Homo sapiens: one gene and its partner. The protein of the gene in region 2 purifies or fractionates together with the protein of the main gene of each other region. This does not show direct contact. Each region holds a gene or a part of one and is shown on either strand. Other genes may lie near its edges.

What was found.
Region 1: the proteins of MRRF (region 2) and LYRM7 purify together in Homo sapiens (affinity purification with mass spectrometry, with the first as the bait; one large-scale study listed by BioGRID). This does not show direct contact.

The regions. Positions count from the first base shown.
Region 1 is NC_000005.10:131,201,944-131,205,928, reverse strand, and holds the end of LYRM7 (complex III assembly factor LYRM7), read right to left. Parts: 3' UTR 501-3,985; downstream 1-500.
Region 2 is NC_000009.12:122,278,382-122,281,881, forward strand, and holds part of MRRF (ribosome-recycling factor, mitochondrial isoform 1 precursor), read left to right. Parts: intron 1-2,061; coding exon 2,062-2,217; intron 2,218-3,500. UniProt on the Homo sapiens protein: Responsible for the disassembly of ribosomes from messenger RNA at the termination of mitochondrial protein biosynthesis. Acts in collaboration with GFM2. Promotes mitochondrial ribosome recycling by dissolution of intersubunit contacts.

The DNA of each region.
Region 1 (3,985 bases), on a different chromosome or scaffold from region 2:
CACATATTGGAAAAAGATAATTAACAAAGGACTAGTATCCAGAATATATAAAGGATTGGTTAGAAAAAGCCAGACAACCCAACAGAGAAAAGAGGACAAAAGATAGAGACACACATTCATAATGGGAAACCATAATGGCCAATAAACATATGACAAGATGATCTGCCTCCCCAGTAATTAAGAAATGCAAATTAAAACAATATACCATTTTATATCCATTAGTTTGACAATGAGAAAAATCATACATAACAGTGAGGATGTGGGGAAATGGGACCTTTCACACACTGTCGATTGGAATGTAAACTGGTACAACTATTTTAAAGAGCAATTTAGAAATTTCTGGAAAAGCTGAATATGCACATACGCTAGGACTCAACAGTTCTGCTCCTTGGTGTATGTCCAGGTAAACTTTTTCTTGGGTGTAAAAATCTATGTGCCAGAGTTTTTTGCAAATTGGTTTGCAACATAAAAAAACTGGAGACAATACTATCACTCATCAATGGAGACATGAATGAACAAACTTGTTTATTCTTACAATGGAATAAAACTTAAAAGACCTGAATTCATGCCAAATTATGGCTAAATCGCCAAAACCTAATGTATGATGAAAAGTTGCAGAATACATGGAGCATAACGCCATTCATTTACATTTTAAAATCACAAAACAACTGTTTTTTGAATACATACACACTTGGTAAAAGTATAAACACAAGTAAGGGAATGATATCCACAAACTATAAAACAGTAATTATCCTGGAGAGAGAGGAGAAAGAGAAGGGTGGGGTTTAGCTTTATAAGATTTTATGACTTAGACCTTTAAACAAACATGGCAAAATGTAACAACTATCAAATGTGGGAATTAGGTTCATGAGTGTGCTATATTATTTGCTAATATTTAAAATATTTTATAGTTAATTTTATATTAAAAATCACTAGTAGCTTATTGTCTTTTAACACTTACATGTTGATATACTCACTGTAAACAATATTTAAACGTGCAGGAGTAAATAGAATAAAAGTTCTCACTTACTGCTTCCTTCCCTAAATCTCTTTTCCTTCCCGATTAAGATTAATCATGTATCGTTTCTACCCATTTGTACATATATATGCAAATATGTACACAAAAAGTTTTCTTGTATATAAGTGAATTTCTAGCAACACCTGCTTACACACACACACACACACAAATGAACATCCGTTTTCTGAAATGCTTGGGATCAGAAGTGTTTCAGATTTCTTTTTTTTTTTTTTTGTATTTTGGATTATTTGCATTATATACTTACTGGTTGAGCACTCCAAATCTGAAAATCTGAAATCTTCCAGTGGCCATTTCCTTTGAGCATCAGTCATGTTGGTGGGTCAGAAAGTTTTGGACTTTGGAGCATTTGAATTTCTGGATTAGGGATACCCAAACTGTGTGTGTGTGTGTGTGTGTGTGTGTGTGTGTGTGTGTGTGTGTGTATCCTCATCCTTTTCAACTCTTGGAAAATATTCCAGAGTATAAATAAGCCACCTTTTCTTTCATTGTACCCTAACTTTGGAAACTCAGTCTGTTTTAAATTGTTTAAAATTATAATGTTACAGCAATTTCTGTACATATACCTGAGTACACATTTATTAGTATTCTTTGAGTTTTTGAGAAATAGACTGAATATATTTAAAATTTTGATGATGTCAATTTTCCTTTCAAAAAGGCCCTATAGTCAGGTGTGGTGGCTCAAGTCTCTACTCTCAGCTATTAATGATGTTGCGAGGATTGCTTGAGTCCAGAAGTTTGAGTCCAGCCTAGACAACACGGAGAGATCTTGTCTCTAAAAAAAAAAAACCCAAAGAAACAAAAGGCCCTATAATTTATATTCCTTTAAAAATGATATGACAGTGGCTATTTCCTTATAGTCTTACAACCTTTAAAAATATTGGATATGATTGTCTAACTTGTGACAACTTGATGAACAAACATGTTTCATTTTAATTTACATTTCTCTCATCACTAGAGACTTAGTATTTCTTCTTTTGTGAATTTCTTATTTGTATCATTTGCCTATCTTTCCATTGAGTTATGTTTTGCTAACTGATTCACAGGATCAATTAACTATTTCAATCATGACATAGGTGGCAAATAACTTTCTCTAAACTTTATTTATAGTAGCTTTCACAGAATACAGAAGTTTTATATTTTTATGTGGATATATTTGTCAACTTGTTGGGATTTCGATAAATGTTTTTTCTATTTTTGAGATGGAGTTTCGCTCTTGTTGCCTAGGCTGGAGTGCAATGGTGCGATCTCGGCTCACTGCAACATCTGCCTACCGGGTTCAAGCGATTCTCACGCCTCAGCCTCCCGAGTAGCTGGGATTACAGGCATGCACCACCACGCCTGGCTAATTTTGTATTTTTAGTAGAGACGGGGTTTCTCCATGTTGGTCAGGCTGGTCTCAAACTCCCAACCTCAGGTGATCCACCCACCTAGGCCTCCCAAAGTACTGGAACTACAGGCATGGGCCACTGCACCTGGCCTCAATAGATTTTTGAAAAACTGTCATCTCCAGAATTTTCAATTGTCCTATCTAGGAACATAGTATATCTCTCCTTTTTAAGTGTTATAGCTTATTTTAGAAGTCTATTCCCAGACTTTAAAAAGTCTATTTTACAGTTTTGTTTGCAATTATAAATAGGATCTGTTTTCCATTTCTGATTGGTGACAACTGATATACAGTAAAACTATATTAATTTTGCATGTATCCACTTTGGCTTCAGAAAACTCACCTTCAGAACTGGAATCTTCATTTCTTTGTTGACCTATGGCTTTGTGTTTATGGTTAAATTATGTGCTTTGTCAATAGGTATAGAAATTCCACATATTCTTATTCTTGTGTGCTTTTTTGGTATTGTACTGATGCTGTGAGATGCATCTACAGGAAAATAAGAACTAACTTAAACACAGTTTGACTAAAATCTTAATTTTAATGTTCTGAATTAGATGTTGTACAAACTACCTGCCATATTCCCCCAGCTTCGAATCTACATATGCTTCTCAAATCTGACTCTCCTGCTATATACCATTTCTAACTTCCGCTAAAAGATTGTGTTAGAAAGTCCTGCTGGGCCTCTGAGCCTGGATATTTGCAATTAGAATTCATATACCCCACTTTCACTAGATCTCAATAGTCAAAGCAAAATTATATTTGGGCAACCCCTTGTGTGAATACAGAAAACTTAAAAAAAATAACCAAATAAAAAACATTTAATTAAAGCTGGTTATGGTGGTATGCACCTGTAGTCCTAGCTACTTAGGAGGCTGAGGCAGGATGATTGCTTGAGGTCAGAAATTCTAGGCTGCAGTGTGCTATGACTGTGCCTATGAATAGCTACTGCACTCCAGCCTGGGCAACATGGTGAGATACCCATGTGTAAAAAAGTTTTCTTTTTTTCTTTTTTTGAGACGGAGTCTTGTTCTCTCAGGCTGGAGTGCAGTGGCACAATCTTAGCTCACCACAACCTCTGCTTCCCTGGCTCAAGTAATTCTCCTGCCTCAGCCTCCTGACTAGCTGGGATTACAGGTGTGTATCACCATGTCCTGCTAATTTTGCATTTTTAATAGAGATGGGGTTTCTCCACGTTGGTTGGGCTGGTCTCGAACTTCCGACCTCAGGTAATCCACCTGCCTCAGCCTGCCAAAGTGCTGGGATTACAGGCGTGAGCCACCACACCCAGCCATGAATTACTTTATCTAATTAAACTATTAAATAACCAGTTAAAATCCATTTGAAATATAAATATATGATTATAAGAATAGGCAGGGTGCAGTGGCTTACACCTGTAATCCCAGCACTTTGGGAGGCTGAGGTGGGAGGATCAACTGAGCTCAGGAATTTGAGACCAGCCTGGCCAACATAATGAGACCTTGTCCTTACTAAAAATAAAAAAAATAGCTAGGTGTGGTGGCGCATACCTCTAGTCTCAGCTATTTGGGAGGCTTAGTTGG
Region 2 (3,500 bases):
CCCTTTGCAGATAACTATTATTCTGACTTCTAGTAGCATGGATTCGTTTTCTCTTTTTTTTTACTTTTCAGTTTATATTCTCATATCTGGCCTTTGTACTGTACAGTTTTGTTTTCTTGTGTCTGGCCTCTGTGTTCAACATCATGTTTGTGAGACTCATTTAAATTTTTGTGTGTGTTCATTCTTTCTCATGGTTGCATAGTATTTCATTCATAAATATTACTATTCATTCCAATATTGACAGGCATATCTTTAAATTATTAATGTGCATATTTGGTTTTAAAAGTTCAAAGTTGAAGATATTATTTCAGTTGCTTCTGGCTTCTGTTGTTGCTCTTGGAAAGTGTTCTAAGTTTTAATCCTTCATGGATAATTTGTCTTTTCTCTTGGGCGTTTATAAAGATCTCTTTGTCCTTTGTTTTCTGCAGTCACAACATGTCTAGGTGTGAATTTACTTTTATTGTCCTATTTGAAACTTGTGTTTCTCAATCCGAAGATCCACATCTTTTTTTTTTTTCTTTGATCTGTCGCCCAGGCTGAAGTGCAGTGGCACTGATCTCGGCTCACTGCAACCTCCACCTCCCGGGTTCAAGCGATTCTCCTGCCCCAGCCTCCCGAGTAGCCGGGATTACAGGCACACGCCACCACGCCCAGCTAATTTTTGTAATTTTAGTAGAGATGGAGTTTCACCATTTTGGTCAGGCTGATCTTGAACTCCTGACCTCGTGATCTGCCTGCCTCGGCCCCACAAAGTGCTGGGATTATAGGCATGAGCCACTGCGCCCAGCCCCACATCTTCTATCAGTTCTGAAAAAAAACCTAAGCCATTGGTTTCAAAGCATAATGGTAACATGGGCAAATAAATGTTTTTAAAAATCACTCTGTTGCTTACCAGTTGTTTACTTTGGACGAAACATTTAAATGGCTTGTGCCTTAGATTTCTCATCTGTACCATGGGGACAATACTAATCACTATTCTTCCTACCTCAGAGAGCTATCTTGGATAGCAAGGAGGAGAATGTACTTGAAATTGCATTGCAAGTTATAATATGCCACCCAAATAGTACAGGATTGAGTTCACTGTAGATGTTCAACAAAATTTATTTAATGAATCTCAATAAATATTTGTTGAATGTTTAATGAATAAACAGTGTAAATATTGTTTAAAATTTTATTGTTTTTCTCCTTCCCCATTCCCTATAAAAGAAATGCAAGAATATTTGCATCACTCACAGAAATTATCTATGTATACACCTAGAATGTATATGAAAAATCACTACGATGATTTAGACATAAAATGAAATTATATTCAGCTCCCAATGCTGTTGATTTTCTAAAATATAAGCCATTGTCTCTACCATTGGTAGTGTTTAATGTCTGTAAACTACTATTGTTCCTTTTGTCTGTACTCTACCAGCCATCAGATATTGTGTGCATATCCTTGTCTTAGTGTCCATTTTTAATGAATTAATGTATTTCCTGTCTCTCTAATTAGATTTTGTGGAGATGGGCTAGTGAAAAGTTCATGGGTTTAAAATTAGGCAGATCTGGAACCAGATCTTGACTTTTCCATTTCCTGACCTGTGACATTAGGCAAATAGCTTTACCTTTCTCATCTTCTGTTTACTTTTCTGAAAAGTAAGGGATTAATTTAGTTATGGATTCCCTGCCATGTGTATAGTGTTCTTTTAGGTGTTTGAATGACTTAATTTGTATCCTTGTAGCAACCTTGCAATATAGATGTTACTATTCTTTTACAGGTAGGGAACTTGATACTCAGAAAGATAACTTGCCTAAGGTCATAAAGCTAGTATGCATTATAGCCAGACTTCTAACCTGGGGTGTCTGATTATAAAGTGTGCCCCCTCACTAGTATCTGAGAAGGTGTTTAGCACAGTTGACACTCAGTTAATATAGGCTCTTTTTTAGTGGAGCGATAATGTTTTATAATTTTCTAACACTTGACATTTTTCCCTGTACATAGTAGGTACTTCTTCACCAATTGCTTATTGGCTCTGTTTATGCTGCTGTTGTTTTATTCACTGAATGTTCACTTTTTAGCCAAAGGGAAAGGACAGTCCCAAACCAGAGTGAATATTAATGCTGCCTTGGTTGAGGATATAATCAACTTGGAAGAGGTGAATGAAGAAATGAAGTCTGTGATAGAAGCTCTCAAGGATAATTTCAATAAGACTCTCAATATAAGGACCTCACCAGGTTAGTGACTGAACCAATGTTCTGGGGAGGGATGTAATGGAAAGAGCATGGGTTTGGCAGAGTTGAGTTTTAGTCCCAGCTTTGCCATTTACTAACTGGTGGCCATGGGCAGTTACTTTGCTTTTCTGGTCCTCGGTTTTCTTGTTTGATTCTTAACTTACAGCTTTGGGGTGGTAGTTAAAATAAATGAGGTAACGTATTATGGTTCTAGCATAGTGCCTGGCGCATAGTTAACACTACATTTATTTATCCATGCTGCAAATTTTTGTCTACTTTGGAACTAGGCATTGTGCTAGTGCATAGTAGTAAACAAAAATAGGTATTGTCTTTGCTATCATGGAATTAGACTCTCAGAAAAATGAGATTTTTATTATGAATGTACTATAAACACATCTAGGTATTTAGTCTCATAGTAACTGACATCTTTGGTCCGATTTTTCCAATTTGTCCTGTTTGGCAGTTCTTATCCCTTACTGGGAACCAAATGAATACAGACCTGCCCACGTGAGGCATTTCTATACCCCTGAGCTTGACCAGGAAGATTCCGTTTGGGTTAATAACTTCCTGAAAGTGGCTTTTCTAAGTGGGAAATGTCAGAACTGTCTAGGCCAACTGTTTGCAGATGTGATGGAGAAGTGAGTTGTCAGCTGATGGTGCAAGCAGGCAGGAAAAATCCAGTTGCTGTTAAATTAGGCTTTTGCAAATTGTCATCATCCTAAAGTCAAACCTGGGACCCCTCTCTTAAGGTACCTGTGGGAGCTTGGGCTGCTTCTACTCACATCTTGATTAGGATAGTTCATAAGAAAACTAGAAATATTTCGCTCTTAAGAAAACCAAGTGAAAAATACAGCTCCACTTATAAACACTATCAGAAACATTACCGAGTTCAGAGATGAGATCCAGTGTGAAACTAGAAGACTGTTCCCGTCACTTGTCAACCTTTGGGCTGGGGCATTTCTGCCTTTGCTGACAGTAGAGCGTGCCATTCAATCTCTCTCAACTGTTTATTTTAAACTTGCTTATTATTTTAGGTATGAAACTGATAAAGTGCTCTGTCTCCCCTGTGTTTTCTGGCCTGTTAACATTCTGCAGCCGAAACCAGAGAGCAGTTTGAGAGGAGCTCAGGGAGAAATGTGATACTTAAAATTAGCCAGCAAGCTCCACTCTTGTTGAACTTAAAAAGATGATGGGCCTGGAAAGAGGTTGGGAGTGTAATTTGTTAAATGTTAACCTCTGAGAAAATGAGGGGCAGGAATGAGGCTGAGGGAGATTCTCGCTGGGGA